5 linked regions of the Homo sapiens genome follow. The protein of the gene in region 2 purifies or fractionates together with the protein of the main gene of each other region. This does not show direct contact. Each region holds a gene or a part of one and is shown on either strand. Other genes may lie near its edges. The genes, in order: IPCEF1, DOCK1, CD244, ELMO2 and SURF4.

The links.
Region 1: the proteins of DOCK1 (region 2) and IPCEF1 purify together in Homo sapiens (affinity purification with western blotting, with the first as the bait; one study listed by BioGRID). This does not show direct contact.
Region 3: the proteins of DOCK1 (region 2) and CD244 purify together in Homo sapiens (co-immunoprecipitation; one large-scale study listed by IntAct). This does not show direct contact.
Region 4: the proteins of DOCK1 (region 2) and ELMO2 purify together in Homo sapiens (affinity purification with mass spectrometry, with the first as the bait; one large-scale study listed by BioGRID). This does not show direct contact.
Region 5: the proteins of DOCK1 (region 2) and SURF4 purify together in Homo sapiens (affinity purification with mass spectrometry; one large-scale study listed by BioGRID and IntAct). This does not show direct contact.

Annotation. Positions count from the first base shown.
Region 1 is NC_000006.12:154,346,791-154,350,348, reverse strand, and holds part of IPCEF1 (interactor protein for cytohesin exchange factors 1), read left to right. Parts: intron 1-3,558. UniProt on the Homo sapiens protein: Enhances the promotion of guanine-nucleotide exchange by PSCD2 on ARF6 in a concentration-dependent manner.
Region 2 is NC_000010.11:127,408,885-127,412,442, reverse strand, and holds part of DOCK1 (dedicator of cytokinesis protein 1), read right to left. Parts: intron 3,407-3,558; coding exon 3,265-3,406; intron 3,131-3,264; coding exon 3,052-3,130; intron 2,189-3,051; coding exon of another isoform or gene 2,027-2,188; intron 1,604-2,026; coding exon 1,519-1,603; intron 1-1,518. UniProt on the Homo sapiens protein: Involved in cytoskeletal rearrangements required for phagocytosis of apoptotic cells and cell motility. Along with DOCK1, mediates CRK/CRKL regulation of epithelial and endothelial cell spreading and migration on type IV collagen.
Region 3 is NC_000001.11:160,852,863-160,856,420, forward strand, and holds part of CD244 (natural killer cell receptor 2B4 isoform 1 precursor), read right to left. Parts: intron 1-3,558. UniProt on the Homo sapiens protein: Heterophilic receptor of the signaling lymphocytic activation molecule (SLAM) family; its ligand is CD48.
Region 4 is NC_000020.11:46,386,070-46,389,627, forward strand, and holds part of ELMO2 (engulfment and cell motility protein 2), read right to left. Parts: intron 3,152-3,558; coding exon 2,970-3,151; intron 1,722-2,969; exon of another isoform or gene 1,631-1,721; intron 1,369-1,630; coding exon 1,269-1,368; intron 207-1,268; coding exon 55-206; intron 1-54. UniProt on the Homo sapiens protein: Involved in cytoskeletal rearrangements required for phagocytosis of apoptotic cells and cell motility. Acts in association with DOCK1 and CRK. Was initially proposed to be required in complex with DOCK1 to activate Rac Rho small GTPases.
Region 5 is NC_000009.12:133,363,506-133,366,111, reverse strand, and holds part of SURF4 (surfeit locus protein 4), read left to right. Parts: intron 1-83; coding exon 84-127; intron 128-1,085; coding exon 1,086-1,272; intron 1,273-2,352; coding exon 2,353-2,606. UniProt on the Homo sapiens protein: Endoplasmic reticulum cargo receptor that mediates the export of lipoproteins by recruiting cargos into COPII vesicles to facilitate their secretion.

The sequences.
Region 1 (3,558 bases), on a different chromosome or scaffold from region 2:
ATTATCATGACAATTTGGTTACTTGTTAGATATGGAACATCAGCGTCTATTTGGGGGGGATATTTATTTACCTCAGTTTGTATTGAAATAAAAGTTCAAATATTCTGAAAATGATGCAATGTGATGGAACTTTGATCCAAATATAAAATCTAAGGCTGCAATTTAAGTGTACAGCAAGTGGAAACTTCTCAATAAATGGATGTTAGATCATTTTAGTGGTTCATCTGTAATCGTTGATCACTTTGATCCATAAATTTAGGCTGGTACCTGCATAAGTACTTTAATGACAGCATAAATAGCCAGGATTTCAAGCATATTCTTGAGTTTCCCTGTGACATAAGAATCTCTTAAATCCCCTTTTCAGCAGAATTTGAATTACCCTAATTCCTATTACATGATTATCCCCAGCAGAACAACATTCTTTTAACAGGTAAATATCATTATAGGAAGCTAATACATTTAATCTATGTAAAACTAAAAATATCTTTTTTCTCCTCCTCTTAATTGATCCATATTTAATTTTCTTTAGACTTGTTAATTTTATATAATCTTTTTCTAACTATGCAGTAGAAATCTGTGACTGGATAGATTTTTTCAAATTTGGACAGGGTAGAAGTTCTTTTTTTCCTGACTATTGTGAAGGAAACTGCATTCTTCAGAGTTTTATGCACTGATCTGTAACGCCAGAGAGGAATAGAACATTTAACTACTTATAGGCAAATGTACATATATTAATAGAGACTGAACCTTAGTCTAAAACAGGAAAATAGGCCAGGCACAGTGGCTCATGCCTATAATCCCAGCACTTTGGGAGTCTGAGGTGTGAGGATCACTTGAAATCAGGAATTTGACCCAGCACTTTGGGAGGCTGAGGTGGAAAGATCACTTGAGCTCAGGAGTTTGAGAACAGCCCAAGCAACGTATAGCAAGACCTCGTCTGTACTAAAATAAATAAATAAATAAAATAAAATAAAATAAAATAAAATAAAATTAGTTAAGTGTGGTAGAGCATGCCTGTAGTCTCAGCTACTCAGGAGATGGAGGCAGGAGGATCACTTGAGCCTGGGAGATTGAGGTTGCAGTAGGCAATGATCGCACCACTGCATTCATTCCAGGGTGACTGAGAGTGACCCTGTCTCAATAATAATAATAATAATAATAATAAGATAAAATAATACAAACCTCTGAGAAAGGAAAAAAGATGAAACCAACTCAAAACATTTCCCAGGAACCTTAATTTAACATTATTCACTCCTAAAGAATATAATTCTTTGTAAAGTGTCACAGTTTATCCAGAGATAAGCTGTACTTTATACAAAGTTATGTTTGAAGGAGAAAACCTTTAATTATTTGAAAAACTAAGCAAACGGCTGTAAACATGAAAACCATGCATTTTAGGCTACTTGTTTATGATTATTCTGTTTGAATAGCTCAGACTACAGCACACTATTGGATAAATCTGTAATAGTTTTATGGACTGATGAGAATATATATAATCTCATCCATTTCTTGAACATGTTTGAAGATTCTACTATTCTAATAGATTAAATGGTTGTTGCAGGAACGTTGCTGTTTATTCGCTGGGAGTGCAAGTCATTTGTAACAACTTTGTTCTTTCCACCGATTAAAAGCCTGAAGCAAATGATATTAAAGACCTTATTTTCTGGTTCCTTGTTAAGGCACAAATCCCAACCTCTTTTTCCATCCTGACAAAAAATAGTCAAGCAGTTGTTCTTACTAGTGGTTGTGAATGCTGACCATATAATATGATAAGGACCCACTTACGAATATTCAACCTTCACCAAATACTTATTGAGTACCTAATATTTTCCACGTAATGTGCCAGGTATTTCACTGCAATTAAATGGACAAGATCACCTTTGAAATTCCCCTGGAATCGTGTGAATTAGTATTGCCTCTTGGTTAGACTCAGTTATAGCCAGTCTATCAAAGAGAAGTGCCTGAACTTGAACTCTCTTGGTCAAATACACTCACAGTTTTCCAGCTAGAGCTGGATTTTACTCTGGAACACAGCTACCAGAGTTTTCCACACTTGGATTTTCAACTTGATTAATCAACTAGAGCAGCTTTTGCGTAGGTAATGGGGACTTGAGGGAGGGACTGTGGAGCAAGGTTTGAGCCAGGCACTCGAGTACTATTCAGTTTTATTTTGTGAACACTCACAAACATTCCAAAGTTATGTACAAATTAGTTGCCTTGAGAGGAACGCTGGAGTCCCAGATATTCTGAGCTGAGAAGCCAGCACGGGGAGAGAGACACCGAGTCACCAAAACACAGTAAGTGGGCTGAGCAATGAAGGCTCAGCGACTCCTGATTGCCTTGAAGTGACTTTGCTTTCAAGTTGGCATTAGCTGTAGTCACAGGGTCCTAGACATGGGGTGTAGTAATTTCCACCGGGCATTGCATCCTCTTTGTGTTCTGTGCATTGGGAGCAAGTTAGCAAGCGATCCCTCTGTCAATCTCAATGGACTTCAGGCATTGAGCACCAAACCACTGTCCACTCCCCACGAGCTCACGTTTCCTATCATTGTGGAGGTGGCCTTTTGCCAATGGATGGATGCTCCTGGCCTATGAAATATTCTAGGCAATGCCTGGAACTTTCTGGGCAGTAGGAGCCACTGAGGTGAGCCTTAGAGCAAGGCAGAAAATAGAGTCCAAGAGGACCCCTTCTTTCTATAGGCTGGTGAAAAAGTAGTCTTTAATGGCAAAACCTGCAACTACTTTTGCACCAACCTGATAATTGCAGCTTTTCCAACAGGCCATGCAGGGCTTCCCCAGCCCCACTGGCTGTGTGGCACATGGAGGTAACATGTACTGTCCTCTTGCTGTCTGCAAGGGACGGTGTTAAAGGCTTTACATTCATTATCTAATTTTTTAATCAAATAGCTCTAGGAAGTGCTGTTATTATTAACTAGTTCCCTTTCTCTGATGAGAAAACACAGGTTCAGGGAACTTCAAACCTGGCTCAAGGTCACCCAGAAATAGTACAGTCAGGGTTCCAACCCCAGCAGTTTGACTCTGGGGTCAGAATTTGAGCCTAGGCTTATTTGACCTGAGCGTCCAGTATATAGCTGTCCTGAGGGAATATACTATAATATAAGGAAAAGGATGCTACATAATTTCTTATTTTTGGATAAGGTTGCTTTGTGCTTGTCCACCTTTCCATTCCTGGAGCTGAGAATGTGTATAATCCAACCCCAGAGAGGCCAGAGGAAGCCTGTTTGGGTGAATAATGATTTTAGGAGTGCTCAGCCCAGATTTGCCTGAGCCTTGAGGAAAATCTCATTCCCAAAGACACTTCCAGATCAAAGCTGAGGAGAATTGGGGTTGAGGGTGATGGAGCATTTGTTTCTAATAATATAGATTGAAAAGGGGAAGAAAACAGAGATTAAAAAATAGGAAGGCAGAGTTTTGAGAGGATATGCTTGGATAGGGATAGAGTCTGGCCACCCAAATCTTACGTTGAACTGTAATCCAAATTGTAATCCCCACGTGTTGGGGGAGGAAACTTGTGGGAGGTGATTAGACCATGGGGGC
Region 2 (3,558 bases):
ATTTTAAAAAAATTATGGCTTATTTGATGCCTTTTCAACATGGATCCACTCACTTGAGCCCAGGAGTTCAAGACCAGCCTGAGCAACATAGACCCCACCTCTATATAAAAAAATAAATAAAATAAAAATACAAATGAATCCATGAAAGCAGTTTGTATGTAGAATTTTTAAAAGGCTCTAGGGCCAGGCGCGGTGGCTCACGCCTGTAATCCCAGCACTTTGGGAGGCTGAGGCGGGGGGATCACGAGGTCAGGAGATCGAGACCATTCTGGCTAACACCGTGAAACCCCGTCTCTACTAAAAATACAAAAAATTAGCCGGGCGTAGTGGCGGGCACCTGTAGTCCCAGCTACTTGGGAGGGTGAGGCAGGAGAATGGCGTGAACCTGGGAGGCGGAGCTTGCAGTGAGCTGAGATCATGGCACTGCATTCCAGCTTGGGCGACAGAGCGAGGCTCTGTCTCAAAAAAAATAAACAAATAAAAATAAAAAAATAAAGAAAAAAGGCTCTAAAGATGTTTGCTGTTATTTCTACAACTCGAATGCCGTGGTTTGCAACAAGGGGCAGATGTTTTATTTTGCAATGTCTGGAAACTTTATTTTTTTGATGGAGTTTCACTCTCGTTCCCCAGGCTGGAGTGCAATGGAGCGATCTTGGCTCACTGCAACCTCTGCCTCCTGGGTTCAAGCGATTCTCCCGCCTCAGCCTCCCAAATAGCTGGGATTACAGGCGTGCACCACCACGCCCGGCTAATGTTGTACTTTTAGTAGAGACAGTGTTTTACCATGTTGGTCAGGCTGGTCTCGAACTCCTGAACTAATTTGATCTACCTGCCTCAGCCTCCCAAAGTGTTGGGATTACAGGTGTGAGCCACCATGCCTGGCCTGGAAATCTTTTTGATTGGTTGTCCCAACTGGGGTGGTGGCACTGGCACCTAGTAGGCAGTGTTCAGGGATGCTGCCAAACATCCCTGGATGCACTGGATGGTCCCCACCACAGAGAATAACCCGGTCCGTATTGCTAGTAGTGCTGGGGTCAACCCTGCAGTTGTGTGTTGTGCTCCACTGAAGTTCAGGTGCTGGATACTGAATGAGGAATGAGCACCCGGGTCCAGATCCAGTTCATGTGCTGACTGCTGTGTCACCTGCAGAAAGCCACGTCAGCACCCCGCACCTCAGCACTCGGTGGGTCCATTTTTAACTAGAGATGACAGGCACCTGCTCTCTCACCTGGGGCTCGCAGGGAAGGCAGTGCGCTACTCATATGGGAGCTCCGGCATTTGGACGGCACAGTCTCCTTATTAAATATCTCAGTGACCTTAGTCATATTGTTAGTGAAATGGCAATTAGTTTTTCTAACTTTGGAGGGGGTAATAGATTAAGATTTCTGCACATAATACACAAAGACATTTAATATGGCTCCGTGGCTGCCTCTGAGGCCACGCTTCTCCAGTGGCAGTTCTACTGGTGGCGGAATGATATTTTTTGTTGTTTGGTTTGGTGGTTTGTTTGTTTTTTACCGCAAATTCATTGTCTGGGTTTTTCTCTCCCTTCCGGATTGGCCGAGAATATTCAAATCGCTGGACCTCGTTCACCCTGTAAAAACTGTACAGAGACAGACAGATCATTAGATATTTAACCCGGCAAATAGCCAATTTGCTTTTGGACACGGGGTCTGGCCTTAGAACATGTCACTGCCTCCTGTAAAATGTCCCTAACCTTGACCTGAAGCCATCGCCTTGGTGTCCTCTCCCAGCCAGGGAAATGTTGGCAGGTGGAAAAATTAACTTGAGTTTTTGCCTCTTCCCTGTCCCTGCCAACCCTCGAGGGAAAACAGAAGCTGAGTAAGAGTGAAATGAGCAAAAACAGAGGAAAGGTGAAGCGAAGGAGAGAGAAAAAAGCTTTTGTGTTCAACGTATGTGTTTATTATTATTTTAAAAAAGTATTACATACCTTAGTTTCAGATCTACAAAGCACAGATTTTGCAACCACCCCAAGAGTGACACACAGGAAACATAAGTAACCTGCCTCCGCGGTCGGGGTACGAGGCAGGCTTTCCGCATGCACAGGGCAGGGCGTGGAGAGACTGAGACTGATTTCTCCCCTGCACTGAAATGCAGGCAGGCTTCCACAGCAAAAGAAACTACTGCATCTGAGAAGGCTCTAAGCGTCACTATTTGCTTAAGGCCTCTGAAAAAAAATGTTGCAACCCTTAAAATGTATGCCTTGCGAGAGCAATCATTTGTAAATAAACAGGGTCCCAGTTTATTTCCCATTATTGCTGATGCAAGGTCAAAGAAACGATGAAAGGTTAAAGAAACCACCAAACTTCAGGAAGCAAAATGAAGCTGATCCTAAGGAATATGAGGTCATCAAAGAGATTAATATTTTCACCAGAACATGGATCAAACAGAACAGAAAAGTCTTAATATCAAACACATCTGCTAAAGCAGGTCTTTCTATGCCATTGCTAAGTCAGGTGCGATACAACTGACAGGCAGAAAATCTCACTCAAATATGGACAGTTGACTCAGGAGGTTTAAAAGCCCCCTCATAACCCTACATTATGGAATTGCTGTGCTGTAAGGCTGAAGGGTTCTCCTGTGTGTCACCAGGAGCAAATGTGCAAATCCCATTTCCCGCCTTCTAAAATGCAAACATTCAGGCCACACTCACATGTATGAACTTGGCTTTGCTGGGAACAGGCAGGACTTGTGCACTGCTGTGAAGTTCCCTAGGGGATTGTACCCCACAGGGCAGGTCTATAAAGGAGACCAGACGGCCTCCACTGCCCTCTTAGGTTTTTGCTGTCAGCTGACTTTGGGAAAGGAATAGGCTTTGCACGCTCCCAGCACATGGATTAACATCTCCTGTCACTTTTTTTGGATGCTGAAAATAATTAGCTTCCCTTGCTCTTCAAAGAGGACAGAAAGAGCATTTGGAAAGCGAATCCATGGCCAAAGTCCGTCCTTTAAAAGGTGGAATTATTAGCAAGAGATCTGTACACAGCCTCTTACAACCCTCACGTTGGGTAAGAAAAATGGGATTATTACCTTACAATCTGCTCTGACACTGGCCTGTGAAACTTAGGAGGCAGATCGAGTTTGGGCTTCACTGTGAAGCACTGAATATCTGAGGTGAGGGGGTTAAGGATCACTAAGGCAGCATAGACATCAACCATGAGAGAGGCCCCCCACCACACCCAACCACCCAAATGAATGGCATCACCATGGTTTCAGAGTTGATGAGGTTGTCTTAAAGGATACACTGGCCAGGAGAGTTTTTAATATCGTCGCCTGGTGGAGATGTTGTCTTCATTTTCTCGGCGTTTGGAAACTGAGTTAAGAGCCGAGCCTCAAAATCTTCCCGGCGCTCATACTCTTTCCCTCGGTAAATGAAAACTTTTCCCTGAAAAGGGTGACATTCATTTCATAACACCACAGAGAAAGGGCCAGGAAGAGTTCACATGCAATATGCTGGCCTTAAAATATGCCTTACGGGTTCTTACAAAATGTCATTAAATTTAAGAACAACTTGTAATTTTTATTTTTTTTTGTACT
Region 3 (3,558 bases), on a different chromosome or scaffold from region 2:
AAGAAAAAAAATTAGCTGGGCGTGGCAGTGCACACCTGTAATCCCAGCTACTTGGAAGACTGAAGCAGGAGAATCACTTAAATCTGAGAGGCGGAGGTTGCAGTGAGCCAAGATCATGCCATTGCACTCCAGCCTGGGCAACAAGAGTGAAACTCCGTCTCAAAAAAAAAGAAAATCTGGTGTTTATATCCACTAAAAATATGTACAAGAGTGTTAATAATGGCTTTAGTCATAATAACTCAAAATGAGAAAAAACCCAAATGTCTATCACGATTAGATGAGCAAATAAATCGTGTTATAGTCTTATAAGGAATATTACACAGCAATGAAAAAGAAAAGCTACTTTTCCTGGCAATAATGTGGATGGATCTCACCACAATGATGAGTATTAATGAAGCTAGACTCCAAAAAGTACATAGTGAATTATTTCACTGATATAAAGTTTAAAATCTGGAAAAACTAATATATGGTGAGAGAGGTTAGAATGTGATTACCCTTGCAGGAGGGGGGTTATCAACTTGAAGGGCCAAAAAGGAATGACTGGGTGCTAGAAATGTGTTACATCTTGATGTGGGTAGTTTTGATATGTACTTACACATATAAAAGTTCATCAAGCTGTTGATTTAAATTTTGTGCACACAGCTGTGAGTTGTATCTTGGTAAAAAAGCAGAAAAAGAGTAATGACTACCTCTCACTCAACTGTTCTGACTATTAACTAAGATGTACTTTGATAAAAGCAAAATATGACTTGCCCATTGTGGAAACATTACCATAGCAAGTGAATTTGTAGATTTCCTCACTCATCTCAGCTAAACCCAACTCTTAGCTAAATATCAGAAAAGCCTGGGAGGCAGGGGTTGCAGTGAGCCATGACTGCACCACTGCACCCCAGCCTGGGTGACAGAGCAAGACCCTGCCTAAAAAAAAAAAAAAAAAAAAAAAAAAGTGAAAAAGGAAGATAGACCTAAAACAGCCAACTGAAATGCAATATGGAATGTGCTATGGAGGTGTGCCCAGGGTGTGAGGCAAGCATAAGGAAAGCATGTTTTCCTCTGCCCTGCAGAGTTAGGAGTGGCTGCCCAGAGGCGGTGGGTGGGAGCTGCCATTGAAAGAAAAAGCCAAGGCCTGCCTGGTGTATGCAGAAAGGAACAGGGAAGGTGGGTATTATGGACCCAGCAGTAGCATGGTTAAGGGAACACAAAACACACGTGTGGCTTATGGGTCTGGTAAAGATGGAGCAGGTTTGGAGAATGGGGTGATGGAACATGAGTTTAATTTTCAGGTGTTTAGTGGTGGTTTCACTTTATTTTTATCTTTTATAAAATTGTGAGAGGTAGCACAAGTATTAAAAGGTACTTAAATATAAATATACGGTGTAATGAAAAATAACGTAAACTCCCATATAATCCACCAGTAGATCAGAATGTAGAGCGCTATGTAGAAGAAGGTTGTTCTCTGCTATTATAAAACTGAATAGGAATCACACAGGAAAATGGTTAAGTTATTGTCTAGACTTCTTTGTTTGTTTGTTTGTTTTAAGACAGAGTCTCGCTCTGTCACCCAGACTGGTGTGCAGTGGCATGATCTCGGCTCACTGCAATCTCTGCCTCCCAGGTTCAAGTGATTCTCCTGTCTCAGCCTCATGAGTAACTGGGACTACAGGTGCCTGCCACCACCCCCAGCTATTCTTTTTTTTTTTTTTGTATTTTTAGTAGAGACAGGGTTTCGCCATATTGGCCAGGCTGGTCTTGAACTCCTGACCTCAAGTAATCCACCCGTCTCAGCCTCCCAAAGTTCTGGCGTGAGCCACCACTCCCAGCCATAGACTTCTAAATACTTAAAGAATGAAATGTGTGATCTACAGTCCTCATGCTATACTGCCTTTGGGGTCTTTTTAAAAATTAGGCCGTTATATTTTATTTTTATGTAATATTATATTAGTTTATACATTTAAGACTGGTTTGTCTGCAAATAAAAAGGAGCTAGAGAGAACACCAGGTGTTGTTTTGATTTTTCAACTGGAAGGAAACTGTACTAAAGGTAGGAAGCCCACAGAAAAGGAGCAGCTGAAGAAAGATGAGGGATGTCTTCACAGACAGCAGGTCCCAGGTGACTTCTGAAAGAAGCTCTGGTGCCCTGAGCACACAGGGGAGTATTGGTCAAGGACAGGGCAAGAACACTCTTGCCCTCAGCAGAGGCAAATGTGGCCATTTACAGGAGTAGATGAAGTACATTGACACTGGAGACTTGTTGGCAAGGTTGGTGGAATCCCTAACTTGTGCTTCTGTTTTCTTAAAGAAGGAGGTTGTTGGTTTGTGGAGGCTGAGATAGTGGAACAGGGCCTTGAAAGAGATGACGAAGGTGTGGAATTCTCCCACCTTTTGGGGAACAGGAGAAGCTGTGGGCCAGAAATGAGGATTCCCAGGACACTGAGAGTCCAGCTGGGGTTGGAGATTACGAATCTGTAGCTGCTCTTTGTTGCTGAATTTTCTCCTGCAGCCCCCAACAGTCCAGTGTGGGAAGGAGGAAGATGGTTGGAATGAGTTTCCATGGACGGCCTGGAAGGGGTGGGTGCCAGGGCAGGGGTGCAAAGCAGATACGGTGAAAAGGCAAGTAGACAAGTCACTATGTCCAGGGTATTGTGACTGATACAGAAAGACCTCAGTTTCTGTCCCAGAGGGGTACACACACCAGATAGGGGAGATGAAATGCTACTACGAAAACATAACTTCAACACAAGTTCTCACACATTTAGTGAGGCATAGAGGAGGACCCAACAAGTGAAAATTGTTTAGAGGAAAGAGGCCACAGTCCAGGAAGGCCCCCGGGCCCCTGCCACTGCTGTTGCTACTGCTCAGCAGCTTTGGGGGCCACCTTCCTGTGGTTAAGAACGGATGAGGTGAACTAGTAACTCTGAAAGGGAGGGCAGAGGGCAGATGATTAACTCCACTGCAGCCTCAGGAAGAACAGAGGATGGTCAAGGAGACAAGTACAGAGGATGGTGAAGGAGACAATCTGATCCAGCAGTGAGTCCCGCTCAGCCCTGAGCCCATGTGCAGAGCTCTGAGTCAGCTCAGCTTCCTCCAACCTGGACCTGCCAGTCGGAGGAAGGTGTGGGGCCTGAGCACCTGGGAGAAGGAGCACGGGAGGGTCTCAGAGCAAGTGGAATTTCCACCAGCCAACAAATAGATGTTAAGGTTTTCTCAGCTAGGGCTTGTGCTACCAGGCTTGGGGTGAAGGCATCAAAAGATGTACCTGCTGGGGACTAAGTGAACAGAGTCCAGTGAGATTCCAAAAGTACTGGGGCAATCCAGCTCTAGTCAGGGCAAAATCATAAGATAGATAAAGTATCCTATAGGGCCCACATCCCATTTCTTTCTTCCTCTCTATTTAGCTTCATACTGACCATATTAACTCTCTTCCTCAGGCAATGCAACTCCCTTACCTCTGTCAAAACTCACCTAGCCCAAGTCCCACTCTTTGCATCAGTTAACCAAATCATCTCATATGTGATATTGTTTCTCCATGATAACAAGTGCATCTCCCTTTCCTGTTTC
Region 4 (3,558 bases), on a different chromosome or scaffold from region 2:
GGAGAAAAGAGGACAGACAAGTGAAGGGAGGGAGGTGTAGGGTTTTTTACTCACACCTGGAGGTGTGAGATGAGCTGTCCCACGGTGATTTCCTCGGCTATCTTCTGGTACAGACTCTGGCTGTTCAAGACCATGCTCTCCAGGATGGCCAGGGACCTCTGAAGGATTGACACGTCCACCATGGGCTGGCTCACATACCCTGCAATCTAGACCCAGAGATGGCACATCAATTGAGAAGCTCAGGGCCCAAGAAAGATAGAAGCTTAGCATCTGATGCTAGCCCTTGAAGCTCTCTCTGCTTCACATTTGGGCAGCTGTTGCTAGGTGGATAGTGGTATCTGGTTTACGGCTACCCTGGCCAATGTGCCAGGGATTCCCTTGGCATGGATACCTTAATCTCAGATTATAGTATCCACTTAATTGTGTTTCCTCAAAATCTAAAAGCTTAATTCTTTTTATCAAAATAAGGGTTCCAGTTTGAGAAAGTGGGGTATAAAAAAGCAGAGGATTTTACTGATACTGGGATCTCATTTTATCTCCATGTACCTCCCCTGACACACACTCCCCCTAAACACACTTAGACTTTGAGAGGTAGAAAGGACCTTGAAGCCTTTTACTCTAATCCTTCTTCTCAGTCCCCATTATAATATCCTTGACACATGGTCATTTCACTTGTGTCCAGTGTCGGGGAGTCCCAATGTCCTAAGCCAATGATAGCTGAAGTTCTAGGGCAGCAGATACAATATTATTCATTGGTTTTAGTTCAGTATTCTGAATTGACACTGCTCCTTTGTGTAAAAGAAAGGAGGGTAAAACCAGAAGTACCCTCTCCTACCCACTGAACTTAGTCTGACAATCCAAACAGGCTACCTTGCAGATTTGTAAATAGAAGGCAAATTTACAAATGAAATGCAAATTTTTTTTATATATATACAAAAAGAAGAGAGAGCTCAGGAAGTCGGTCAAAAGACTCAGGGCTAGTACTGGTTGACTGGCTGGCTTTATCCCCAGTCTCACTGACAATCTAATTCTACTTTGATCATATTTAGTTCTGACGGTCCAGTTCCATCTCAGTGCAGGCCCTGAGAATATAACAAAATGCAAATCTTTCAGAAGCCACAGAAGACTAGAGCTTGAGGATGAAAAATCTGGCCCCAGGGAATATAAAGCTGATCTCACCAGAATGGCGATATTGCCTGTATCTCCCCTTAAGCCTTGTGAACTGGCAGCTGAGGGAGGAGAGAAAGACAGAATGTTGGAGGCCTCACCTGCTTAATAAAGGTGATTGAAACCATGTCCCAGGAGACAATGCCATGGTCCATGAGCTCTAGGAAGGCAGTCAGGGTGAATGCCAGCATCTCACTGTAGCTGAGACACGTGCAACACACACACAAAATAGACAAAGATTCAGATCGGGAAACACAGGTGTGAGGGCAGCCACAAAAAAGATGAATTTTAATGTGAACACCCCATGGGAAATCAGTCGATGCAACTGTAACTGTAAGTGCCTGTGTGCACACCTAGCCAGTGTAGAGCAGATTCAGCCCAGGTATCTATCGCTGCAAAAAAAAAAAAAAAAAAAAATGTTGCTGGGTAATTAGATCTTCCTTCTCCATATGCTTCATCCCAGGGACACAGAATCACTTATCTATTTCCCAAGACCAAAGAAGACATTGGACCTTTGTCAAACTCCAACACCTGTTGGGAGAACCTAAGGAAGTGTAAGTGCCATGTTAACCTTTGGGCCAAGAGGCAGTAGAGTGCAAGAGATGGGTTCAGTTCCTGTCCACCTTACTAACCAAGCAAATTTTATCTTTTCAAAATTCAATTTCTTCCTCTGTAAAATCAAGTTAGTCTCACAGCGTTAACCTCACAGGGTTGTGGAGACGACAAGATGATGATGTATGCAAAGCTCTTATTCTAGTGCTGGTAGAGAATAAGGATTAAAATGTTTTCTCTTTTTTCTCTTCTCCTTATACATTTAATCCTTTATACATCTGTACAGTGCTCTAGAATTAACAGATGATATTCCTATTTACAAAGCATGTTCAGACACATTCTCATTAACAATACTTCTCACAATAATACTGCAAGGTAGCTATTATTATCCTCAGGCTGAAGAGAGTGAAACTAAGGCCAGTCTAACCCTGTACCCTTGGGAGACTGTAGAACTATGTCAGTGCTGATGGCAGCTGAAGGCTTCAGGACTTCAATACAGCTGGAAGATCCAATATGTAAAACAAATATCTATGATTAGTTACTCGATTTGGCTAACAATTTCAATAGTTGATCTATGGGCTGAGAAGATTTCTGACTCCCTCTTTGGCAGGTTAGGCTCCAAGCACCTGTTTACTGACTGCTGCTCACAAGGCACAGCTGCCCACCGCATGCATGTGAACTCTGGGGTATGATGAAGATGCTTGTGGGTATCACAAAGTTCTGGTCTCCTCCTCCCTGTGCAAAAGTGTGGCAGGGAGATGGTGAATGGGTAGGTTGACACCTGTGGTAAACACAAAGGAAGGCGTGTGTGTGTGTGTGTGTGTGTGTGTATGGGCTGGGAGGTGACTGAAGAGGGAGGAGCAGGGGATGATTACAAACAGACACCTGGGAGATACTGGACCATCTGCTCACTAACCCTCATCAAACCAAACATTTCCAGCAATTAACAGGTCTGTCACGACGTGACTGCTCTCCTCCTGACTTCTCTAGCCCCTATTTTCACTGCTCACTTGGCACAGTACTGTTTTGTACTGTTATTTAATTTGTGAGAGCCCAAATAGACTACACGATTTAGAATCACAATATGGAATTATATATCTTGGTATGGACTCTAGTGCTTGGCACACTGCTCTGCACACAGGTGGTATTCAATAAACTCCTTATTTGACTCAAGGGAAATGAGACTAGGATGCCCTGTGGGATGTAGTAAATCGTCGAAGTCCTTGGAACGAGACCTTAGTCATACTCACTGGGACAAGAGCTTGGTTCCACTTTCCACGAGCCTTGTCAGCACAATGATGCCATCCATGTTGATGAACTCAGTAGCGAAAGTCACGTCGGCAGAGAGCTTGGCCAGCTCCTTCATGGCATCCAGCCGGGTCTCCATGTTGGATGACTGGGTCCTCTCCATCAGCTGGCGTGCAGCCCGGGACTAGGAGGCCAGGGACAAGATATGTGCCATCTGCTCCTTGGAGCAGGTTACTACTCTGTGGATAGCTCACAGAGGCCCTTCTGTGGACATCCAAACCTGAGGCAGAACTAGTTTTTTCACACAGCTTAGGAGTTGCTAAATAAATGTTTGTGGAATCAATCAGGGAGTTATTAGTATGCCAAAACCAATCTGTAGTTATCTGCATCTTTTCTGTACCGCTTTGGCCTATGGATTTAAAAAATTCCTACCAAGGGAATACTGGAGGCATCTGGGAGGCCCACTAACGATGGTAAGTCACAGAGAAACAGATACTGGTTTAATAGAGGAAGGTTTTCTATTTAAGCTGTCTTGCTGGGTGCGTGGCTCATGCATGTAATCCCAAGGCTTTGAAAGGCCAAGGCAGGATT
Region 5 (2,606 bases), on a different chromosome or scaffold from region 2:
AGACGGCCTAATGTATTATGAAGTCTGTGGAAATGCCTTTGGAAAGGCTGAGACTCAAGTATCTCTCTCTTCTTTCCCCTCAGACGATTGCCTACAGCATTTTATGGGACTTGAAGTTTTTGATGAGGTATGTGCATTCTGGTTGGTTTTAGTATACGCTCCTTCTACAGGTTGAGCATTGCAAATCCAAAGTCTGAAATGCTCCAAAATGGGAAAAATCTTGGGCACCAACATGACGCTCAAAGGAAGTGCTCATTGGAGCATTTCAGGTTTTGGATTTTCAGATTTGGGATGCTCAGCCAATAAGTATATAATGCAAATATACCAAAATCTGAAACACTTTGGGTCCTAAGCATTTCAGGTTAGGGATACTCAATCTGTATTTCTAAACTCAGTTAACTATTGGTTTGAGTAGACTTCTCTGGGTCTAAACCAAGCTTGTCCAGCCTGTGGTCCACGGGGTGAACATGGCCCAACACAAACTCAAAAACTTTCTTAAAACATTGAGAGTTTTTTTTGTGATTTTTAAGTTTTATTTTTTAGCTCATCACCTATCATTAGCATTAGTGTATTTTATGTGTGGCCAAGACAGTTCTTCCAGGGTAGCCCAGGGAAGCCAAAAGATTGGACCCCCCTGTCTAAATTGTGCCTCTTAGAAACAGGTTCTGAAGAGGATGTTGCAGAGCCCCTAGAATAGTAGAGACTGAAGCCGTCTCTTCTGACCCTTATTTCACGGGTGTGGGGACTCCGGGTCTGAGTGGAGGACAGACCTGACCACGGGGACCCAGCTGGTCAACACTGAAGCTGTGACTAGGACTCGGTTGTGTGTGTGTTCAGGTAGCCTGTCACTGTCGAGTTGTAAAGATACCTCTGTCTCCTGAGCTATGTAAGGTTTTACATGGGTGTAACTCGAGTCTGAGGTCCTGTGCGCATGCCTGCCTGGTCCTGCTTGGCAGATCACTGGGTTTGGAGAAAGGGAAGTAAGGGCCTTCTTATACTGGCAGCAAGGTCTCCCTGCACCTGGTCTCACAGACAGGCCAGATCCTGGTGAGGCTTAGCTTCCAGCCCACATATCTGTTCCTCAGGAACCTGGCCCTGGGAGGAGGCCTGTTGCTGCTCCTAGCAGAATCCCGTTCTGAAGGGAAGAGCATGTTTGCGGGCGTCCCCACCATGCGTGAGAGCTCCCCCAAACAGTACATGCAGCTCGGAGGCAGGGTCTTGCTGGTTCTGATGTTCATGACCCTCCTTCACTTTGACGCCAGCTTCTTTTCTGTAAGTATTCCTACTTGCCTGAACCGGTCTGGTTTCCTGTGAATGCTGTCCCTCCCCCACCCCCTCCCTGCTCACCCCTCCCTGGTTGGGTATTAACCACAGCCTGGGGGAGCTGCTGAAATGGAGCAAACTTTTTTTTTTTTTTTTTTGAGACGGAGTCTCGCTCTGTCCCCCAGGCTGGAGTGCAGTGCGTGATCTCGGCTCACCGCAAGTTCCGCCTCCCGGGTTCACGCCATTCTCCTGCCTCAGCCTCCCGAGCAGCTGGGACTACAGGCGCCTGCCAACACGCCTGGCTAATTTTTTGTATTTTTAGTAGAGACAGGGTTTCACCGTGTTAGCCAGGATGGTCTCGATCTCCTGACCCCTCGTGATCTGCCTGTCTCAGCCTCCCAAATTGCTGGGATTACAGGCGTGAGCCACCGTGCTCGGCGGAGCAAACTTTTTGATCCCATTAAAACAGACCAAAACATCGTCAATCTCTTGTGTGTCAAGCCTTCTTTCCAGCAAATGAAGGCCAGAACCTCTGACCTTGGTGGAGTGTGCTTGGCCCTTGGTTGGCCAAGGCTCTCCACCCGGGCTCCCCTTACTCTTCTTTCTTTCCTCACTGTTCGTATCTTTCTCAAGTAATTCCTGTGTGTCAGGTGTCAGGGGCAGGCCTCCAGGAGCTTCCAGAGCACACCTCCGGAGCTGACTGAGAGCCCTGGCCGGGTAGTGTCCAGGAAGAGCTCCTGGCGCCATGGAGAGAGGAGAGAGGATGTTTCTGGCCTGGATGGCTGGGTGGGCCAAGAAGCACTTGGGAATTTAGTTATGGATTAGAGATTCATCTTGGTAAATCACAGCCTGTTACTAGTTGGGAACTTCAGTCTTCCCCAAACCTTCCACATTTCAAAGCTGGTGCTTTATTGCCTCCTGCCTCCCTTTGGCTTTTATCTCCCTACTTGCACCAGCAGCCGTCTCAGCAGTAGCTACATCAGCCTGATGGATAGAGACTTCATGACGTGCAGCAGCTGGAACTTTTGTTTATAAAGCATCTCTTTTCCTCACATTTATTTTGAATTTCTTACGTTTCAACCTATGCAGATTGTCCAGAACATCGTGGGCACAGCTCTGATGATTTTAGTGGCCATTGGTTTTAAAACCAAGCTGGCTGCTTTGACTCTTGTTGTGTGGCTCTTTGCCATCAACGTATATTTCAACGCCTTCTGGACCATTCCAGTCTACAAGCCCATGCATGACTTCCTGAAATACGACTTCTTCCAGACCATGTCGGTGATTGGGGGCTTGCTCCTGGTGGTGGCCCTGGGCCCTGGGGGTGTCTCCATGGATGAGAAGAA